Linked DNA regions of Homo sapiens. The protein of the gene in region 1 interacts with the protein of each later gene in a pairwise test. Each region holds a gene or a part of one and is shown on either strand. Other genes may lie near its edges.

Evidence for each region. Proteins that work in one complex are often made in the same cells at the same time.
Region 2: the proteins of CYB5R1 (region 1) and SLC51B interact in binary tests that used the Homo sapiens proteins (3 or more experiments, as listed by UniProt).
Region 3: the proteins of CYB5R1 (region 1) and TTC1 interact in binary tests that used the Homo sapiens proteins (3 or more experiments, as listed by UniProt).

What each region holds. Positions count from the first base shown.
Region 1 is NC_000001.11:202,964,191-202,972,013, reverse strand, and holds the start of CYB5R1 (NADH-cytochrome b5 reductase 1), read left to right. Parts: upstream 1-4,756; 5' UTR 4,757-4,808; coding exon 4,809-4,823; intron 4,824-5,115; coding exon 5,116-5,265; intron 5,266-5,413; coding exon 5,414-5,486; intron 5,487-6,020; coding exon 6,021-6,127; intron 6,128-6,513; coding exon 6,514-6,643; intron 6,644-7,318; coding exon 7,319-7,402; intron 7,403-7,823. UniProt on the Homo sapiens protein: NADH-cytochrome b5 reductases are involved in desaturation and elongation of fatty acids, cholesterol biosynthesis, drug metabolism, and, in erythrocyte, methemoglobin reduction.
Region 2 is NC_000015.10:65,040,589-65,048,386, forward strand, and holds the start of SLC51B (organic solute transporter subunit beta), read left to right. Parts: upstream 1-4,798; 5' UTR 4,799-4,994; exon of another isoform or gene 4,995-5,125; coding exon of another isoform or gene 5,126-5,156; intron 5,157-7,798.
Region 3 is NC_000005.10:160,047,054-160,054,138, forward strand, and holds part of TTC1 (tetratricopeptide repeat protein 1), read left to right. Parts: intron 1-2,460; coding exon 2,461-2,609; intron 2,610-4,075; coding exon 4,076-4,130; intron 4,131-7,085.

The DNA of each region.
Region 1 (7,823 bases):
ACCAAAAATTGGAAATAACTCAAATGTCCTTCAGCTGATGAATGGATAAACAAATTATGATACAGCCATACAACAGAATACTACTAGCAATGAAAAGAATGGACTGTAAATACACATGATAACTTGGATGAATCTCAAACTATGCTGAGTGAAAGAAATCCACTCAAAAGCTTACATATTGTATAGACTTTATTTATGTGACATTCATAAAGAGGCAAAAGTGTATTGACAGGGAACACATCAGTGATAACCAGGAGTTAAAGGTAAGGGGAGGATGTGGCCATAAAGGGATAGCATATGGGAGATTTGCAGGGTGATCAAACTGGTCTATTTCCTGATTATAGTGGTGCCACAAATCTATACATATTCTAGAATTCACAGAACTGTATGCCCAAGAGTCTATTTTAATGTATGACAATTACAAATTTAAAATGAGACAGCTGGGGCCAGGCGCAGTGGCTCATGCCTGTAATTCCAGCACTTTGGGAGGCCGAGCCGGGTGGATCACAATGTCAGGAGTTCAAGAACAGTCTGGCCAAGATGGTGAAACCCCTTCTCTACTAAAAATACAAAAATTAGCCAGGCGCCATGGCGGGCGCTGTGGAAGTCGCCTATAATCCCAGCTACTCAGGAGGCTGAGGCAGGAGAATCTCTTGAACCCGGGAGGCAGAGGTTGCAGTGAGCCGAGATCGTGCCACTGCACTCCAGCCTGGGTGACAGAGTGAGACTCCATCTCAAAAAAAAAAAAAAAAAAAAAAGGCCGGGCACGGCGGCTCATCCCTGTAATCCCAGCACTTTGGGAGGCCGAGGAGGATGGATCACAAGGTCAGGAGATTGAGACTATCCTGGCTAACACAGTGAAACCCCGTCTCTACTAAAAATACAAAAAATTAGCCAGGCGTGGTGGCGGGCGCCTGTAGTCCCAGCTACTCGGGAGGCTGAGGCAGGAGAATGGCGTGAACCTGGGAGGTGGAGCTGGTAGTGAGCCAAGATCATGCCACTGCACTCCAGCCTAGGCGACAGAGTGAGACTCCATCTCAAAAAAAAAAAAAAAAAAAAGAGACAGGTGGAACTTTGAACACTGACTAGCTATCTGATGAAACTAAGTAATTGTTGTTAATTATTTTTACATGTGATAATGGTATTATGGTTATTTTTAAGTCCTTAGCTTTTAAAGATACACACTAAAATATTTAAGGACAAAGTTATAAAAAATATGGGATTTGCTTAAAAATAATACTGGAGGAAGGAACGGACTGGGGAAGAAATGAAAGAAAGGTGACCATGATTTAATAATTGTTGAAGAGGGTGATGGGTACGTCGGGCTTTATTATACTGTTCTGTCTACTTTTGTATATGTTTGATAGTTTCCATACTAAAAAGTTCAGCCAGGCACGGTGGCTTACGCCTGTAATCCCAGCACTTTGGGAGGCTGAGGCAGGCGGATCACGAAGTTAGGAGTTTGAGACCAGCCTGGCCAACATGGTGAAACCTCGTCTCTACTAAAAGTACAAAAATTAGCCGGGGATGGTGGCGCATGCCTGTAATCCCAGCTACTCAGGAGGCTGAGGCAGAAGAATCACTTGAACCTGGGAGGCAGAGGTTGCAGTGAGTCGAGATTGCGCCACTGCACTCCAGCCTGGGTGACAGAGCAAGACTCCGTCTCAAAAAAAAAAGAAAAGTTCAAAAAGGGTGTGAGGTTGTTAGTTTTCAACATCAAGCTGCCTGGTATGCAGTCTGAGTTTGCCATTTAGTAGGTGATCTTGGGCAAGTGACTTACTTGTCCTAAACTTCAGTTTCCCCCCACTCCATAAAATGAGACTACTAATGATAATATCTATCTCACAGTTGTTGTCAGGATTAAATGGATGTTGTCAGAATACGTGAAAAGCAATTTACCTAGTTCTTGCTATATTGCACATGCTCAATAAATGTTAATTTTTTTGTCATTATTACATCTCCTGGTCTGATTCCTCCATGCCATCTCCTCAGTATGAGCAAGTCTTCCTCCAAGCTTCTTTCTGGATATCTTATCTAAAAAGGGCCACTGAGTTTTACATCCTAATTCAGAATTATAAAACACAGGTTTGAAATTCTACTTCCCCCTCACACTACATTATATATATATATTTTTTTAAACAGGGTCTTGCTCTATTGCCCAGGCTGGAGTGCAGTGGCGCAATCATGGCTCACTGCAGCGTTGATCTCCCAGGCTCAAGCAATACCCCCACCTCAGCCTCCTTAGTATCTAGGACTACAGGCCAGCGCCATCGCACTTGGCTAATTTTTGTATTTTTGTAAAGACAGGATTTTGCCATGTTGCCCAGGCTGGTCTCAAACTCCTGGGCTCAAGTGATCCATCCAGCCTCCCAAAGTGATGGGATTACAGGCGTGAACCCAGCCTGTTCTATTCTTTATTGTATACCCAGGAGGAAATCCTAAACTTAAAAGATTGGGTTAAATAAAAATTCAGAAATGCCTATCTTTTCCTCCAAACTAGGAGTAATGTAAGATTACCATGAGTCGTGGTGGAGTGGAGTTCAATTCACCACAGAATCTGAGACAGGAAGACCTGCCAGGCCATCAGCCCCTTCCCACCACTCCTGCAGCATTCATTTTCAGGAGCAAAAGAGCCTTCCCACAATTACTGAGTCCAACACTTAGTTTCCAGGATAAGCCCACACCCAACCATTCTGTCCTGTGGTTCCCAGTGATACACTCACACTTGTTAGAATGTGCCACTTTGGGGTTCAGAAAATGCAATCACTGAGAGAAGCCCGAGTTGTAGTTATGCTCTCCTTTCGTTCCATACTTCCCCCTCTCTTGCCACATCTATCCACTAGAGGGAGGAAGGCCTAGAACCTCTTTAGCCAGAGTGGAGCAGTGGCAAGGATCAGTAGTGTGGCTTCTTAACCAAGCCAGCAGTGGGGATGTCAGAAGCACCGGAACATAATCGCCTCATTCTCTCGGAACAGAAAAGAGGAAGGGTCCCTTCCTTCCCCTTTTCAACCCTCTCTGCATGGATTGGCATGTCACCATGATCTGGTGCACTCACTTCCCTCAAGTCAGTGTGCAGGCTGCTTAAAAAATTCAGAGGAACATGTACTGGGGTCTTAGGAACATTTTCAGCCAGTGGAGAGGAAAAGGAAAACTAAGTATCTCTTGGATCATTCACAGAGTTCACCAAATACAACTGAAAACTGGGGGCTCTAATGTCCCTGCTGCCCTGATGGTATTAGTTTAAGATGTTGACACTGACATCTGCAGAGATCTCATCCATCACGGTATATCAAAGAGCAAATGTCATTCTAGTTGAGAAACTCATGTATGAGAAAGAATGGTCATCTTGGGAAATCTGTAGCTCCAGCGGCTCCTGATGTTTTTTCCTGCCTCCTCCTGTCCCATGCTTGTGCCCCAGGCAGAGCTCATTCCTAAAACCATAGCTGACCCTCTGTGCTGTCTTTTAAGTTATAATAGTAGCTGCCAACTGTTGAATATTTTGCTTTATGACAGGCACTACACTAAGCACGTTAACATATCTCACTGAAGCCTCACACCAAAGCTATGAACTAGATACAATCTATCTGTAGATAATAATATATATCCATCTGTAGATATCCATCTTATATCCATCTGTAGATGAAGAAACTCAGGTTGAGTAAGCTATCTAAGGTCACAGAGCCAATAAGTGCTAGAGGCAAGATTCTTATTCTGTACACTCTGCCTCCAAAGCCCACTTCTTTGACCCTAAGGGCACAAGAACCCAAATCAGGATGTGAAGCTTGGTCTTTGAAACCAAAGGAAGCTCCTGAATCATCCTGATAGGCTGACGGCTTGGCGCTGTAAACAAAATCAGTCTTTTGTCAAAAGGAAATGAAGTTGCCATGCCACTGTTCACTCCTGTAAGAGACTCCTCTGGGCTGTTCCATTCTCTTGCTGCAATTCAGCCGGTTGAAAAACTAAGGTGACTGCACAATGATTAACTTCAGGCCCTTCTGCTCTACTTTGAGCCTGTCTCTGGTTCATCGTTACACTCTCCGCTCAGCACCCGCAGACTCAAGAGATTTCCAATCCCCCAATTTAGCGTGGTTCTACCTTAGGCAGAACTCCCATCCAGTTCGGATATAAGCGGGTCGAAGTGGCAGGGACCACCTCGCTGGGAGGAGAGGCTGGAGCTGCGGTCTTAAAAGATCTTGGGGCCGGGCGCGATGGCTCACGCCTGTAATCCCAACACGTTGGGAGGCCGAAGCGGGTAGATTATTTGAGCCCTGGAGCTCGAGACCACCCTGACCAACACGGTGAAACCCAGTCTGTACTAAAAATACAAAAAAAAAATTAGCCGGGCGTGGTGGCGCACGCCAGTAGTCCCAGATACTCGGGAGGCGGAGCCAGGAGAACCACTTGAAACTGGGAGGCGGAGGTTGCAGTAACCGAGATCGCGCCACTGCACTCCAGCCTGGGCGACAGAGCGAGGCTCCGACTCAAAAAAAAAAAAAAAAGTATTGAATAAGCACCGGAGACCCTGAGCCACCGAGTAGCGGAGGGAAAGGGTGGCGCGCAGAGGGGCCCAGCCCCGCCTCTGCCGGACCCCGCCCCCAAAAGGCCCCGCCGCCGCCACCTCCTGCTAGGCCCCGCCCCCGACAGACACCCCCCCCCCCCCCCGCCAGGCCCCGCCTCCTGCCCCCCCAGCCGCGAGGTCCTGCCTCCTGCCCGGCCCCGCCCCCGGCCTGCCCCGCCCTCCGACCCGCCCCGCGGCGCATTGTGGGATCTGTCGGCTTGTCAGGTGGTGGAGGAAAAGGCGCTCCGTCATGGGGATCCAGACGGTAAGACCCTCATTCAGTATCCTCCACTGGGGGACCCCTCCCCATCTGGTTCTGGCCACTCAGCTCCGGACCAGGGGCTGTCGCTGCCGACCCCGCCCCGCAGGGCTCTGGGCCCACCGTGGATGCTGGGGTCCCGATCCCGCACATCCGGGCTCGGGACTCCGCCAGGTTACCCCTCTGCCCTTGGCATGCCTCCGCGCTGGAGCTCGGGATCGCCACCCCTGGGACGGTCACCACCCAAGCCCCGGGCTCTTACCCAGCCTGGCGGTCACGCTGCCTCCTCTACCCACAGAGCCCCGTCCTGCTGGCCTCCCTGGGGGTGGGGCTGGTCACTCTGCTCGGCCTGGCTGTGGGCTCCTACTTGGTTCGGAGGTCCCGCCGGCCTCAGGTCACTCTCCTGGACCCCAATGAAAAGTACCTGCTACGACTGCTAGACAAGACGGTAAGTTGGGGAAGAAAGGGCCAGGGTGAAGGAGGGGACCAGAGTGCTCCTGGCATGGAGGGTACAGCACCCACGGTGGTTGGGATGTCCAAGGGACGTGGCAGCGCCAGGCGCGCTTGGTGAAACACTTGTGTCCTCCACCCTCCAGACTGTGAGCCACAACACCAAGAGGTTCCGCTTTGCCCTGCCCACCGCCCACCACACTCTGGGGCTGCCTGTGGGTAAGGAAAGTGTGGAATGGGCTCCTTTCCCTGGTATCCTCAGAAGGTGACTCCCCTCCTGGGATCTCATGAAACACGCTGCTTCAACCGGTTTGCTCCACACACCATTCCCCTTCCCCCACTTGGCTCTGCATCCTCCAAGCTGTGAGGTGCCACTGGGCCCCTCTAGAGTGTGGCTTCCATGACCCCCATCCAGCTTTAACACTCAACAGTCTTGCCTCTTCCCTGCAGGATTTGCTAATTACTCCCTCTGAGCAAGCACTACTAACTTTTTCCCATTGCCCAGACCCTTTTGGCTCATCTGTCAAGGTCCTGGCAGTAACTGGCAGGAAACGCTGGAAATAAGTGTTTCCTCAACTGGGCGCTTATAAGAGATCCAACTGAGGGCTCAATGGGGCAAATCTTCCCTGCCTTGTAGCTCCTTGGGACCACAGCAGGAAGCAAGACATCTTGTTCTCTCAAATCTCTTTGAGTATTTTGAGGGATGCAGCACATCACAGACAACCCTTATGTAGCTCTCTGCACGGTCCCCAGGCAAACATATCTACCTCTCCACCCGAATTGATGGCAGCCTGGTCATCAGGCCATACACTCCTGTCACCAGTGATGAGGATCAAGGCTATGTGGATCTTGTCATCAAGGTAAGGGGCTAGGAAGGGACCCAGGGGCTGCTTACCCATTCTTTCTGGGATTTGTAGAAATTTCTAAGATTTGCCTGACAGCAGGAAATGGTATGTACTCTGTGGATGTGAAGAAAGTATGAGCTACTCAGGAGACTGAGGCAGGAGACTCACTTGAACCCAGGAGGCGGAGGTTGCAGTGAGCCAAGATTGCGCCACTGCACTCAAGCCTGGGCAGCAAGAGCAAAACTCTGACTCAAAAAAAAAAAAGAAAGAAAGAAAGTATGTAGACGGGGAAAAGATAGCACATATCTGATCCCTGCCCCAGCCTCAGGGAGGTTTAGTCAACATGGGGCTCAGAAACCAGTGACATTCCAAATAAGGTATTTTTCTCTCTGTCTTGTAAGGTCTACCTGAAGGGTGTGCACCCCAAATTTCCTGAGGGAGGGAAGATGTCTCAGTACCTGGATAGCCTGAAGGTTGGGGATGTGGTGGAGTTTCGGGGGCCAAGCGGGTTGCTCACTTACACTGGAAAAGGTAATGACCTGTCTTCTCCTTGAGCCTGTCTCCCACTTTATCAGTTCCCATAGTCCTCTTGGCACAGTATGGCTGTGTGTACACATGTGTATGCACGTAAGGGCCAGGGCCGCCCTTCCTTCTAAACATAGCGCTGATACAATAGAAAGGCATGTTTCTCAGCCCCATTTGCCACAGGAAGCAGTTCCTCCTCCACTTGAATTCCCTAGCCATGGCAGCTGTGGAGATTACTAAAGCAAACATGTGCCCCTCTTCCCCACCTTCAAAAATTTGCCCCCCTGGGTGAGCTGTGGAGTGAGCCAGAGATAGCTTTCAGCCCTTCCCATGGGAACAGCTGGGTGCATTAGCAAGTCCCTGGAGCTGCTGTGTGCCACTTGGGAAAATAGATTCACACCTGGCTCTGTGCCTGTCTCCTTCACCAGGGAGTGACACTTTGCCAGAAGCAGCTGATACATTGTGTGGCGCTGAACTGACTCACAGATAGCCCTGGCCCCATTGTCCCTCAACTATATTATTGTCAGGGCTGGCTCAACTCAAGCTTCCACCCAAGCTCCAGGATCAGATGTCATAGCAGCTGCTCAACTGGCCTCAGGCATATTTTCAACTCTGCATTTGTTTTCTAAGTTCGCTGTATTGACTTTATTCTTCCACTGCTCTCTTCACCTGACCTCTCAGGGCATTTTAACATTCAGCCCAACAAGAAATCTCCACCAGAACCCCGAGTGGCGAAGAAACTGGGAATGATTGCCGGCGGGACAGGTGCATTACACTGAGGGCCTTTCTCTCCCACCATTGTTGACTGTTGCCATGCAAATTCCTAGGTGACCCTCTGAAGACTGGTAACCATAGCCAAGCTGTTGTTCATCAGGGGATTTCCAGCAATGCTTAGAACTCCCTAGTATCTGAAAAACAAAATCATAAGCAGGTAGAAACCAAAAAAAATTTTAACTGATGGAATTAGAGAAACAAATTAAATGAGCTTTCCTCATTTTGAATGGATCTAATAGTTTTAGGTGAGAGAAGAGAGAAGCAGCTAGGAATGACTAGCTAGGAAGAAAGAAAATTAGCATTGGACACTACTGTGCATTAGACACTGTGTAGTCTAATACACTACTATATATTAGACACAAAAATTAGACACATATATAGGTATCTATGAAGTAGGTACTAGCCTTTTCCT
Region 2 (7,798 bases), on another chromosome or scaffold:
GCCCATAGGTTAACAACCCCTGTCCTGACATGTCCTTTCCACCATCATATCTGTGTTCCAGAAAGAGGAATGAGGAAGTGGAGGGGTTGAATTTTCTCACAAAAACATGATCCACAGGTAGAAATAGTGCAGCATAGTCACACAATAGAATACTACGCTACAACAAGAATGAATGAACCACAACTACACACAACGCGGATGAATCTCACAAGTATAATGTAGAGCAAAAGAAGCTGACACAAAAGATTGCATATTGATTGATTACATTTATATAAAGTATAAAAACAGACAAAATTAATCTATGGTATTAAAAGTCAGGTTGCCTTTGTAAGGGATAGTGACAAGAGAAGACTTCTGAGATCTGGAAATGTTCTATTTCTTTTTCTTTTTTTCTTTTAGAGACAGGGTCTTACTCTGTTGCTTAGGCTGGAGTACAGGATGCAATGGTGCAATTGTTTTATTTGTTGATCTGGATGGCATATGTTCCCATGCATGAGTGTGTCCACATGTGAAAATTCACTAAGCTTACCATTTGTGTACTTTCCTATATGTATACTCCAACAAAAAAAAGTTTGTATAAATTTCAAAAAAAAAAAAATAGTGATTCTGAAGTTGCAATCACTTCTCAGGTCTCTTTCGGCCAAAACTTAGAGGACCACTTATGACTGCAGGGAATCTGGGAAATGCAGGTTCATTAATTTTTTTAATTAATTAATTTATTTATTTATTTTAAGATGGAGTCTTGCTCTGTCACCCAGGCTGGAGTACAATGGCGTGATCTCAGCTCACGCCACCTCCCAGGTTCAAGCGATTCTCCTGCCTCAGCCTCCTGAGTAGCTGGGATTACAGGTGCACGCCACCATGCCTGGCTAATTTGTATTTTTAGGAGAGATGGGGTATCACCATGTTGGCCAGGCTGGTCTTGAACTCCTGACCTCGTGATCCGACCACCTCGGCCTCCCAAAGTGCTGGGATTATAGGCATGAACCACCACGCCTGGCCTGGGAACTGCAGTTTCCAGTTGGGTGGCCATATGCCTCTAAAATTTAGAGGATTCTCTTATTAAAAGGAAGAAGGGAAGAATGTAATCTAGGGGGAAATTAGCAGGCTGTGCTACAGTCCACACAGCAGCACAGGCCCATGACAGTTATCAAATCCTGCTGGGCATGAGCTGTGAAGACCTCCACCCTGGCAGTAGAGTAAGTTCTTTGGTTAGCCCACCTGGCTGCCCTTGCTACTGTTTTCTGGGAATAACTCCCTTGACCTTAGTTCTCTGTATTATCTGAGTTTACTCTCAGATAGGTTATTCGTTTACTATAGAGCATGGTCACACCTTTTTGTCCTTCTTCCCTTTTGCTTTTTTTTCTGCTTGGAACTTGGATATAATGGCAGGAGCTGCATCAGCCATCTAGGGGCCATGAGGGAGTCTTAGAAACCTCAGCCCTGATTTCCTTGGTCTTACGACATTAATAACTGGCTACTTCTGACATTCTTCTATGAGAAAATAAACTCTTATGGTTTAAACCACTGACATTGGGTCTTTGTTACCCAGAGCCAAACACAATTCTCAACTGATATGGAAGGCCTCCCTAAGAAGATGACATTTAAGCTGAGGCTTGAAGGGTTAGCAGGTGGCAGATACCAGAATAGCAGAGGAAAACCAAAAGCCCTTTCCACTCCACTACACTGCTGACTGTCTATCATCCTCTAGGTAGGGAGATAAGAGACTGGAGAAGTCAGGAGAGGAGATTTCAAGGTGGGATTGATTGGCCAGGAATGATAGTGATGCTGTGAGGAAAGGAGGGCTTGGTGATGTGCTCTCATCTCCATGTGTACGTTTCCTTCATGGCACTTGTCACACAGAAGTTGTGATGACATGATGAACACCCGTCTGTCTGTTCTGCTAGACTGGAGTCTCCATGAGGGCAGGGACAATCCTTTCGACTGTTTATCACTGGCATAATGCCTGGCACATGGCAACCATGGAACAAGTTATTGGATAGGCCGTAGTAGAAAGAGCTAGGGTAAGAGGAGGGAGAGAAAAGACACAGAAGCAGAAGAGTGGAAAACCTGGGATTGTGCAGGCTCCTTGTTAAGGGGACACCATCCCATTAGAGCACCACAACACTCCTCAGAGGCAGACAAGGGGGATTGAGGTCAAATGGTTCCTTCAGGCACCCACATGGCATGGGCTGTCCAGCTCACAGCCTGTCTCTCCTGGCTACCCAACAGGCATGATGAGCTCTGAGTTGGCTATCAGTGGTACCCCCCTCCCTAGCCATAACAATTGATCCAAGACATAGGTACATGACTCAGGCTGGACAATTAGAGTCCTTTCCAAGAATTTTTAAACAAGAGCTAAGAAAAGTAGCTACTTCCTCTGCAGCTATGAGAGCATGAGCCTGGGTTTCCTATCATCTGGTCAAGCTTCCCGGAGGTGGCCAGCCTGGGGTAATGAGCCTGGCACCCAGAGAAAAGCAGGGAAAGAGCCACAGAAACAAAGCACTACGGGTCGTCAAATCCCTGGTTCCCGTATGCCTCAGGTCAGCTCCACCCTGCCCTTCCTAGTTTATGAGCCAATAAATTCCTTTTGTGTTTAAGAGAGTTAGTGTTGAGCTTCTCTCTTGAAATCTATCAACTACCTTTCTCTCCAAAATGCACCCTGAATCTGACCACTTCTCATCATCTCCACTGCCACCAGCCTGGTCCAAACTACTAATATGTTTTGCCTGGATGAATATAACAGCCTCCCAATGGTCTCCCTGTTCCTCTCTTGCTCTCCTACAATCCATTTTCCACCCAGCAGGCCAAGTGATCTTAGACAAATGTCAATTAGATTATGTCACTTTCCTGCCTAAACCCTCCAGTGGCTTCTCATCACTTTTAGGGTAAAATACAAACTCCTTACCCTGTTTTACAAGGCCCACCATGAGGAGTGGATACTCCTGTCTGTCCTCTGACTTTATTCCATGCCACTTCCCCCTCATCACTATGATTCAGCTATATTGGCCACCTTTTTGTTCCAGACACATTAAGCTCATTATTTCTTCAGTGTCTTTGTACCTGCTTGCTTTCTTTTCTTTTCTTTTTTTTTCTGAGATGAAGTCTTGCTCTGTTGCCCAGGCTGGAGTGCAGTGGTGCGATCTCAGCTCACTGCAACCTCCGCCTCCCGGGTTCAAGCAGTTCTCCTGTCTCAGCCTCCTGAGTAGCTGGGACTACAGGCGCCTGCCACCACACCTGGCTAATTTTTTTATTTTTAGTAGAGACGGAGTTTCACCTTGTTGGTCAGGCTGGTCTCGAACTCCTGACCTCAGGTGATACACCTGCCTTGGCCTCCCAAAGTGCTGGGATTACAGGCATGAGCCACCACGCCTGGCCTTTGTACCTGCTTTTTCAGGTCTTTGCATGGTTAACCCCTCATCATTCAGTTTTTAGTGTAGTAATATAGTAATCATGTCTCCCCCACCTCATCCCTTTCTATCTTATTATGTTGTTTAAGATATTCACAGAAATGATCACTGCTATAATTATCTTTTAATTATGCTTTTGCTTACTTTTTTGTTGGCTATCTCCCCTGGAGTTTGAGCTCCAATGGAGCAGGGCCCTCACCTGTCTTATTTACCATGTATCTACACAGTAGATGCTCAAGTAACATTTATTCAATGAATAAATGAATGCATTACAAAATGAGGAGGAGCTGGAGTTCCAGGCAGCCCCTAGATTCCCTGTTGGGTCTTCTTTCCTCTGCCCCATGCACACACAGTACACACTGTTGACTAATGTTTAACTCATAGAGGAGTTTGGGCTTGACATGTGACCTCACTCAGCCTCTGTTTCATTTGTGAAGTAAGAAATAAGAGTGGGCGGCTGGGCGTGGTGGCTCATGCCTGTAATCCCAGCACTTTGGGAGTCTGAGGTGGGCAGATCACGAGGTCAGGAGATCAAGACTATCCTGGCTAACACGGTGAAACACCATCTCTACTAAAAATAGAAAAAATTAGCCGGGCATGATGGCACATACTTGTAGTCCCAGCTACTCAGGAGGCTGAGGCAGGAGAATTGCTTGAACCGGGGAGGTGGAGGTTGCAGTGAGCCAAGATTGTGCCACTGCTCTCCAGCCTGGGTGACACAGCGAGACTCCATCTCAAAAAAAAAAAAAAAAAAAAAAAAGGAGTGGGCTTATTTCACATAAGCCCACTCCTTGCTAAACCAACAATGATTGCCTAAGATGCACGGAGCCAGTTGGTGGAAAAGTCCATAGACTATCAGAGTTGAATGGTGCTGGTCAGGTGGGAGGAGCACCTCATTCCTGCTTCCCCATCAAGTTACTTGCCTTGGCCTGCTTCCTACTCTCTGGGTCACTGGTGCTCACACAGCCTTTCCCAACCCCCACCTCCAAAGGTCATATTTTACAGCTCCTTGTGAGGAATTCACATCATGCCATGACCTTCACTATGAGAAAGCACAGGCTGTAAAAGGCCAGCCTGGCTCCCTGCTCCGTGGTTAAATATTGATGATATTGGGCAATAGAGACCTGGAGTGGGCACACTACATATCCCCCTGCAGTGATGGAACCCACAGACCGCAGGTCCTCTGCAGTCCATTCTCCTGCCTGTCCAGAGGATCCGGATGTTTTCTCTTTACTTGAGGCCAACACATAACAATGAAAGCACTGGGCTACTGGTGCTTTCGGATTGTGAAAGTCAGGTGGAGCCTGTTTGCACTCTGAGTGCACTCATTCAAGAGGTCAGTCACCCTGGAGTGATACAGAAGGCTCCAGGCCTGGGCGTGTGCTAAGGCCAGAGCTACCAGATGGGTCCAGCTGCCGCAGGCTCTCCAGGCACTGTCCCCTAAGTGACAGCTGTTACTGCCTGGGAGAGCTCAAGTGCAAAGACTATCCTGTTCTCCCATAAAGAGGAGGAAAAGGAAGATACAGAAATCGGTGCTGCTCCCAACAGCAGATCAAGGCAGTCGTCAGGAACTCAGGATCCGGGGTGAGTGTCCTCATCTTGCCTTGGGGATGGGTGGCCCAGGTCTTTGGCAGAAGTCACAGTCCAATGGCACGATGGTTAAGCCCTGTTTAAAATGCAGAGATCTCCCAGAGGGGCTTAAGGAGACAAGACAACTAAATGCAGTATGACATCCTAAATGGGATCCTGGAACAAGAAAAGAACATTAAAGGCAAAACTAACAAAATGCAAATAAGGCATAAAGTTTAATTTAATCATGCAAATGACAATATGATGCTCACTTTAGAAGCAAACTGGATACGTGCTTTGATAGAAATATGTCTTTGGCCGGGCGCAGTGGCTCACGCCTGTAATTCCAGCACTTTTGGAGGCCGAGGCAGGCCGATCACCTGAGGTCAGGAGTTCGAGACCACCCCGGCTAACGTGGTGAAACCCCATCTCTACTAAAAATACAAAATTGGCCGGGTGCGGTGGCTCATGCCTGTAATCCCAGCACTTTGGGAGGCCGAGGCAGATGGATCACCTCAGGTCAGGAGTTCCGAGACCAGCCTGGCCAATGTGGTGAAATGCTGTCTCTACTAATAATACAAAAATTAGCTGGATGTGGTGGCGGGCACCTATAATCCCAGCTACTCAGGAAGCTGAGGCAGGAGGATCACTTGAACTCGGGAGGCGGAGGTTGCAGTGAGCTGAGATGGTGCCACTACACTCCAGCCTGGGCAACAAGAGTGAAACTCTGTCTCTAAATAAATAAATACAAAATTAGCTGGGCATGGTGGTGGATGCCTATAATCACAGCTACTTGGGAGGCTGAGGCAGGAGAATCACTTGAACCTGGGAGGTGGAGGTTGCAGTGAGCTGAGATCATGCCATTGCACTCCAGCCTGGGCAAAAAGAGTGAAACTCTGTCTCAAAAAAAAGAAAGAAATATGTCGCTTGTTTCTGTGGCATCTAACATAGCTGAGGAGGGCTGACTCTCGGTTCTGGATTTGTATCCAATTTGTCATTTTGGTTTTTTGTTGGTTGGTATGTGTTTACTGTAACAATATTAAACATATTTTAAACATATTTTGGCCAGGCGCGGTGGCTCATGCCTGTAATCCCAGCATTTTGGGAGGACAAGGTGGGCAGGTCGCTTGAACTCAGAAGTTCAAGGCTGGCCTGGGCAAGATGATGAAACCCCATCGCTACAAAAAATACAAAAATTAGCCGGGCGTGGTGGCACATGCCTGTTGTACCAGCTGCTCAGGAGGCTGAGGTGAGAGGATCGCCTGTGCCCGGGAGATGGAGGTTGCAGTGAGCCAAGATGGTGCCATTGCACTCCAGCCTGGGTGACAGAGCCAGACTCTGTCTCAAAAAACAAAAAACAAAAAAACACCACTCCACTGTGGACAATAGCTTACCTGCGTCTTTGTACACTGATCTGATTAGTTCCATTAATTAAATATCAAAAATTGGAATTGTTGTCTCAAAAGGTATAAGTACAATAATACCTACATTTAAAAATGCATACAAAGGCTGGGTGCAGTGGCTCACACCTGTAATCCCAGCACTTTGGGAGGCTGAGGTAGGCGGATCACCAACCTGGCAAACATGGTGAAATCCCATCTCTACTAAAAATACAAAAATTAGCCAGGTGTGGTGGCACATGCCTGTAGTCCCAGCTACTCAGGAGGCTGAGGCAAGAGAATTTCTTGAACCTGGGAGGCGGTGGTTGCAGTGAGCCGAGATCACACCATTGCACTCCAGCCTGGGCAGCAAAAACAAAACTCCATCTCAAAAAAAAAAAAACATACATACAAATAGACAAAATATACATAGAAATATATACACACATTAAAAATGGAATTACATGTATTGTTCTCATGAAAGCAGTGTATACGCATAAGAAACCACACAATACAGGAGTGGTCAACATGAATATCCCATGTGTCTAAATCTCATCCCACACCCTAGAAGAAGACTGTGTTTGGTTTCTCAACTTCAATACTTTTCTTTGTGAGTTCAGGGGTTTGCATATGGCACAGGGGCCTGTGGCTGATGTTACTAATCAATCCAGGCACTCTTACATCTGAGACTGGATGGAATGTCACAATCCTTCTTGGACAGTGCTCTGGACAGTCAGTTGGAGCTAGAACACAAGATCACATCTGTTGGCCATTCTTGTAACTTTGTCTTTCCATGATTTTAGATGGGTAGGTAGGCAGATAGATAGATAGACAGATAGATCGATAGATGATAGATAGATAGATAGATAGATAGATAGATAGATAGATAGAATCTCCCTCAAATGAGTAAGTAGGCAGTGTGCATGTGAGTCCTTGAAAGTCTAAGAAAGGGCCAGGCACGGTGGCTCAGGCCTGTATTCCTAGCATTTTGGGAGGCCGAGGCGAGTGGATTACCTGATGTCACGAGTTCAAGACCAGCCTGGGAAACATGAGGAAACCCCATCATTACTAAAAATACAAAAATTAGCCTGGCGTGGTGGCATGCCCTGTAGTCCCACTACTTGGGAGGCAGAGGCACAAACGAGAACCGCTTGGACCCAGGAGGCATAGGTTGCAGTGAGCTGAGATCACGTCACTGCACTCCAGCCTGGGCGACAGAGCAAGACTCCGTCTCAAAAGAAAAAAAAAGAAAAAAAAAAAAGTCTAAGAAAGGTCTTTTTTTCTCCCTGACTTCCATCTCCACCTTGGCATATGAATGATCATTCACATATGAAAAGCTTAAGTCAGTATTGTATTTGTGTCAAAATATTTTCCCTTGCAATTTGTAGATATGCCTTTTTAGTTTTCTCAGAGCATTTAGTGCTAGAGGAAACTCTGATG
Region 3 (7,085 bases), on another chromosome or scaffold:
AAAAGGAGTATTTTCATAAAGATAAAAGCCAAAATTCATGAATTTTAAAATATAAAACTAATAAATACATGCCATGTGTATGGCAGAGTTTCTGTCTTCAACTCTGACTTCTACCCTGTAGTCTAGTGTCCTGTATCCCACTGCAAAGTTCTTTCTTCTTGGATGTCTGGTAGGCACCTCAGATTTAACGTGCCCAGCCCCCACACACACACAAAACTTGCAGTTAGTTTTTTCCATTCTAATAAATGACATTACCATCTGTCCCCTTGCTTAAGTTAAACCTTTGGAGTCATCCCTGATTGTTCTTTCGTGTCACATGGCTAATTGATTAATTAGCAAGTTCCATGGGCTCAAATTTAAAGACATATTTAATGTAATCCGGCTGCTGTTTTCCATCTCTACTACTTCCAGCTTAGACCAAGCCAACATCTTCTCTCATCTGGACCACTGCATTAGCTTTCCAGCTGATCTCACAGCTTTCAGTCTTGCCCCACCCGCCAACACTACAGCCAAAGCAGTCCTTCAAAAATGTAAATCAGAGTATGTCTGAAGCTTGCTTGAAAACTTTCCAGTGGCTTCTCATCACACTGAGGAAAAAGTCCAAACTCCTTTCCCTGGCCAGGAAGGTCCTCCATGGCCCTACATTTCAGCCTCTGATCCCCAGCCTGATAACTCACATGCCAGAGTTATTCTTGTTGGTCCCTCTTCCTGGCACGCTCCTCCTTAGCCTTTCACATGGCTGGCCTCTCTCACATAGTCCCTCTTCATATTCTGAGACCACTTTCTGAAGTTACCTCATTTCTCGCTTCACTTGTATTTCCATGACCTTGTTTTATTTTTCATTATAGTACTATGGCTATTGAAATTATATACCTGTCTGTTCTTGCCTACTAGAATAGCATAAGGCTTCATGAGAACAAGGACTGTGTCTGTCTTGTTTCCCACTATAGCCCAGAGACATACTACATTGGACGTATATATTAAGTACTAAATAAATGTTCACAGAAAGCATGAATTTAAAAATTAAGGATAGATTATGAGAAAAGAAAAAAGTTCTAGAGCCAAGACATTGCTTTTTTTTTTTTTTTTTTTTTTTTTTTTTTTTTTTTGGGACAGAGTATTATCTCTCTGTTGCCCGGGCTGGAGTACAGTGATGCAATCGCCACTCACTGCACGCAACCTCCGCCTCCTGGGTTCAAGTGATTCTTATGCCTAAACCACCCAAATAGCTGGGATTATAGACCCACACTGCCACGCCCAGCTAATTTTTGTATTTTTAGTAGTGATGGGGTTTCGCCATGTTGGCTAGGCTGACGGTCTCAAAGTCCTGACCCCAATTGACCTGCCTGCCTCGGCCTCCCAAAGTGCTGGGATTATGGGCCTGAGCCACCACACCCGGCCAGCACTGCTTTCTAATAGAAAAAGAAACAACTTGGAAGAAATTAGAAGAAATGCAGTATGTTGAACCAAAACATAGCAAAGGATTATTAGAAGGGCAGCTGATGCTGGATAAAGGAAAAGATATTATGCATCAACCACCTCATAGTGCTGGAGCAGTAGTTTGAGGGTTGAAGGAACAGTGAGGATTTAACTAGAAATATAATCTTAGTACTCAAGACCTAGAAAAAAGAGAATGATAGTCTGCCACCAGATTGGTTTCCCTTAACTCTTTAATTTGTATCTTCAAATTCTCTCTCACCTAGCCTGGCCAACATAATGAAACCCCATCTCTACTAAAAATACAAAAATTAGCCGGGCATGGTGGCGCATGCCTGTAATCCCAGCTACGTGGGAGGCTGAGGTAGGAGAATCGCTTGAACCTGGGAGGAGGTGGTTGTAGTGAGCCAAGATCACACCACTGCACTCCAGCCTGGGTGACAGAGCGAGACTCCGTCTAAAAAAAAAAAATTCTCTCTCACTCTTTCACTGCGCACTTGAACTCTGTTCTGGCCTGTCCTGGACTGGGTAAATGACAAGTAGGCAAAAACCAGGACTTGGAGTATAGACCAGGATATGGCAAACTACAGCCACAAGCCAAATCCAGCCTGCCACCTGTTTTTGATAGCCTAAAAGCTAAGAATGGTTTTTACAGTTTTAAATCATTGGAAAGCAAAATATTTCATGATAATGTGAAAATTATGTGAACTTAAATTTTAGTGTCCATAAATAGTTTATTGGAACACACCTATCCTTTTTTGTTTACATATTATCTGTGCCTGCTCTCGTGCTACAATAGTATCATTGAGGAGCTGCGACACAGATGGTCTGTCTGACCCACAAAGCCTACAATCTTTACTATCTTGCTCTTTATAGAAAAAGTTTTCCAGCATCAGGTATACACTTGGCAAATGACTCTTCCTTTCGTATCCTTGGAGGATGATTGATGAAGGAATCTGATATAGCCAAAGATATGTAGGCCATTTTTCTTTGTGATAAAAATTATTTCTTCTCTTTTTACAGCAATTCAATTAAACCCCAGCTATATCAGGGCAATATTGAGGAGAGCAGAGTTGTATGAGAAGACGGACAAGCTAGATGAAGCCCTGGAAGACTATAAATCTATATTAGAAAAAGATCCATCAATACATCAAGCAAGAGAAGCTTGTATGGTAAAACCTAAAATTTTAAAAATATTTTTCCTTCTATTCTTTGTGTTGCTACCCAGTGAGTCCTAAATAATCCTTTCAGACACAATTAAATTCCATTTCTGTGCTTTTGAGGAGCTTATCAAGATATATGGGAGGCCAGGCGCAGTGGCTCTTGCCTGTAATCCCAGCACTTTAGGAGGCCAAGGAGGAGAGATCACTTGAGGCCAGGAGCTCGAGACCAGCCTGGCCAACACAACAAAACCCCATCTCTTCTAAAAATACAAAAAATTAGCCGGGTGTGGTCGTACACATCTGTAATCCTAGCTACTCGGGAGGCAGGAGAATTGCTTGAACCCAGAAGGCAGAGGTTGCAGTGAGCTGAGATCATGCCACTACACTGCAGCCTGGGCAACAGAGAGGATCATTGAGCCCAGGAGTTGGAGGCTGCAGTGAGCTGTGACTACATCACTGCATTCCATCATGGGCAACAGAGTAAGACTTTGTATCTTAAAAACAAACCAACAGGCTGGGTGCAGTGGCTCACGCCTGTACTCCCAGCACTTTGGGAGGCCGAGGAGGGCGGATCACCTGAGGTCGGGAGTTCGAGACCAGCCTGACCAACATGGAGAAACCCTGTCTCTACTAAAAATACAAAATTAGCTGGGTGTGGTGGCACATGCCTGTAATCCCAGCTACTCGAGAGGCTGAGGCAGGAGAATCGCTTGAACCCAGGAGGTGGAGGTTGCAGTGAGCTGAGATTGCGCCACTGCACTCCAGTCTGGGCGACAGTGTGAGACTCTGTCTTAAAAAAACAAAAAATACAAATGAATTTAAAAAAAAGTTAAAAATACAAATATAGCACTGTAAACATCTGATATGTATCCTTTCAAACTTTTTTCTGTATATATTTATTTGTTAAATTTGTATTGATGCCCTCCTTTAGTGTAGACTTTCTATTAAGAACTGGAAACAGAGCCAAACAAAACTTTTTTTTTTTTTTTTTTTTGAGAAAGGGTCTCTGACTCCCAGGCTGGAGAGCAGTGGCACAGTCATGGCATACTGCACCCTCAACCTCCCAGATTCAAGCAACCCTCCCACCTCAGCCTCCTGAGTAGCTGCGACTACAGACACATGCCAACACACCCAGCTAATTTTTGTATTTCTTGTAGAGACAGCATTTTGCCATGTTGCCCAAGGTGGTCTCAAACTCCTGAGCTCAAGCGATCCTCCCAACTCGGCCTCCAAAAGTGCTGGGAATATGGGCAGGAGTCACTGCACCTGGCCCAAACAGAACTTTTGTCTTTATGTAGCGCACCACAAACATAAATACTTGGGGTTTTTTTTTTTTATTTAATAGGATCATAGACATACTTAACTTGATCTTATTTCCACATTAGGATTCTTGTGTTTCTCAAATTCAAAATAAAGGGAAAGGTTTTGGTTTTTTTTTTTTTTTTACCAACCCTTGTTTCTCCTCTTTTCCTCAGAGATTACCTAAGCAAATTGAAGAACGTAATGAAAGACTAAAAGAAGAGATGTTAGGTAAGCTTACTTCTTACTTTGCTTGATCATAAACAGCTAGGAACCTAGGGTGGGGACATAGCGAATACTAGAGGAGAACACATGAGTTAGAAAGTTTCGGACTCTACCACAAGGCTACTGACTTCTGAGTTATTTTGACCCCAGAAGGGGCAGCGTGGCTTAGAGAGGGTATTGGCTTTTTTTGGAAACCAGATTTCCTTTTTGATTTTCTTGGAAATTTTTCTTGCCTGCAAGAATTTAAGCATAATTCAGTTCCCTGGGATTATGCTTAAATGGGATTTAAAATCCTAGGATACCACCAACCTCGATTTCAGATAACAATTACATAAAAACAGTTTAGTTTCTTCATTGAATAATCATTCCTTGAGGTTCATTAGGATGCAGTCAAGATCATGAGAATTTTTATTTAGAAAATGGCACTCAAAGTCCCTTTAGTGTTTGAGAACACACGAGAGGGCAGGAATTAGGAGTAAAGAGAAATCAGACTGGGGGTAGGGGTAGGGCAAATGGATTCATTTGATCCATGTTTAGTTATTTCTCATATTTGCCAAAGCATTTTAGAGTTGGAACCTCCCACGAGCAATCTGCTTAAGTAAGAGGAGTGAGGGTTCCTGAACACAGACTTAAGTCTTTTCCACATGTAACCTGTCTGATATTTCGCTGGTGAAGATCTGCCATGTATTTTCCTTTTTGAGTATTTTCTAAATCTGTTGTTTGAATTACATTTTATAAACTGCAATCATGTGGCCCTAAAGGAAAAATCATTTAAAATAAATTGAGCCTGTCTGGCATTTATGGCCTTCAGACATCAGCATCCAGACAATGGGAACAAATTTCCCAAAGGATCATTCTGATAGCCAAGTTGATTGAGAGGAGGCCATTAACCTAGACTATCCAGAGACTTTGGCCCCTGCCGGGTAGACTCAGACTGTAAAGACGGCTGCTTCCGATTCAGGATAGCTCTGGAGCCTTCCCCAGATTTTCCAAAAAAGGGAGGGGGATGGGGGAGCTTTTCCCCTAATTTACATATTTAATTAAACTTGGCCAGGCACGGTGGCTCCTGTAATCCCAGCACTTTAGGAGGCCAAGGTAGGAGGATTGCTTGAGCCCAGGAGTTCAAGGCCAGCCTAGGCAACATGGTGAAACCCCATCTCCACAAAAAATTAGTCAGGCATGGTGGCATGTGCCTGCCCATAGTCCCAGCTACATGGGAGGATCACTTGAGCCCAAGGGTTAGAGGCTGCAGTGAGCTATGATGGTGCCACCACACTCCAGACTGGGCAACAGAGCATGACCCTGTCTCAAAGAAGAGGGAAAAGAGCATTTTCTCACCTATTTTTACTAACAATGATGCTCTATTTTAGCAAAAAAAAAAAAAAAAAAAAAAAAAACTGTTTGCATTTAGTATTTGAATTTCTTGCTAAAAAAGATGACCTTGTGAATGGCCATAGTGGATCTGGAAGGCATTGGTCTCTTAGTCCATTTTTTTAAAGCCAGTCCAGTAAAGGGACTGGTGCAAACTGAATCTTACTGCCTATTGTTAGTTCCAGATGGAATTAAAACTTCCATTTGTCCTTGTCTTTATAAATTCTAATGCACCAGAATTTTCTGTCTCCAAGGCTTTGGGTTTTTCTTATGTCATTCTCTTCATTTGAAAAAATTCAAATTGAATTCATTCCCTCGGTTGCTTCTAAAATGAATTCACCTGCCATTAGACTTAACCAACTTAAGTTGCTTTGTAAATAATATGTGTTGTTACACATGTGTAGTTTGAATGGCTAGATTCCTTTTTTCCCTTAATGAGTATAAAAATCATGAATAAGATACTGCTCTAGGTGTTACCCCACAATAGATAACCTAGAAGAGAGAAATCACTCTTTACATGGAATTTCAGCCCCCACAAGAGCTTTTCTGGTATTCCTTCCTCCTTGTTGCTGATGAGGTAACTTTGGTTCATGTTCTGTGAGATTCCCTAGAGGCTAGACATTCTGAATGCAAATTAATATCACTTAGAAGTTCTGAGCAAGCTTTTCACAGTGGACTGCATCATCTTTATGCTAGTTCCTGTTAAAATGATGGCTTCTATGGAGAATAAGCAGTTAAAAATTTTTTAAATTGGGTAGTGTGGGCTGGGTGTGGTGGCTCACACCTGTAATCCCAGCAATTTGGGAGGCTGAGCCCGAGTTCAAGACCAGCCTGGGCAACATGGCAAAATCCTGTCACTAAAAAAATTAGCCAGGTGTGCTGGTGTGCACCTGTAGTCCCAGCTACTTAGGAGGCTGCTGTGGGAGGATCACTTGAGCCCAGGAGATCGAGACTTCAGTGAGCCACAATGATGCCACTGCACTCAAGCCTGGGTGACAGAGTGAGACCTTGTCTTTAAAAAAAAAGAAAATTATAAAATCAGGTAGTGTGATGCCTATGCCTGTAGCTTTTGTTCTTTTTATTCAGGATCACTTTAGCTTTCAGAGTCTTTTGTGGTTCCATACAAATTTTAGGATTTTTCTATTTCTGTGAAGAATGTCATTGGTGTTTTGACAGGGATTACATTGAATCTGTGGATCACCTTGAGTAGTACAAAATGGGTTTTTATTTAGATGTGTTCAGTATTCTTTAACTTGTTTTTTCTTCCATCTCTGTAATTTCCTTTTCATTAGAAAGAAGAGCTATGTACTCCTTGAGGGAAAAAATCCTGATAGGAATTATTAGTGGGTAGAACAATTATTTGCTTTGCCCTTTCTAGCCCATCATTTATAATCTTTAGAACAAGAGACCCAGGGTGGCCATTAGTCCTAGTGGCACAGTCCTTGCTGATCACAGAAGATGATCGTGATAGCATCAAGACGATCACTTGAGGAAAGTGGTCAGCAGCTGGAGTGGGGGTTGGTTGTTTTTGTTTGTTTGTTTGTTTGTTTGGTCCTTTTCTCTGGGATAATTAGCCTCCCAGCCATAATA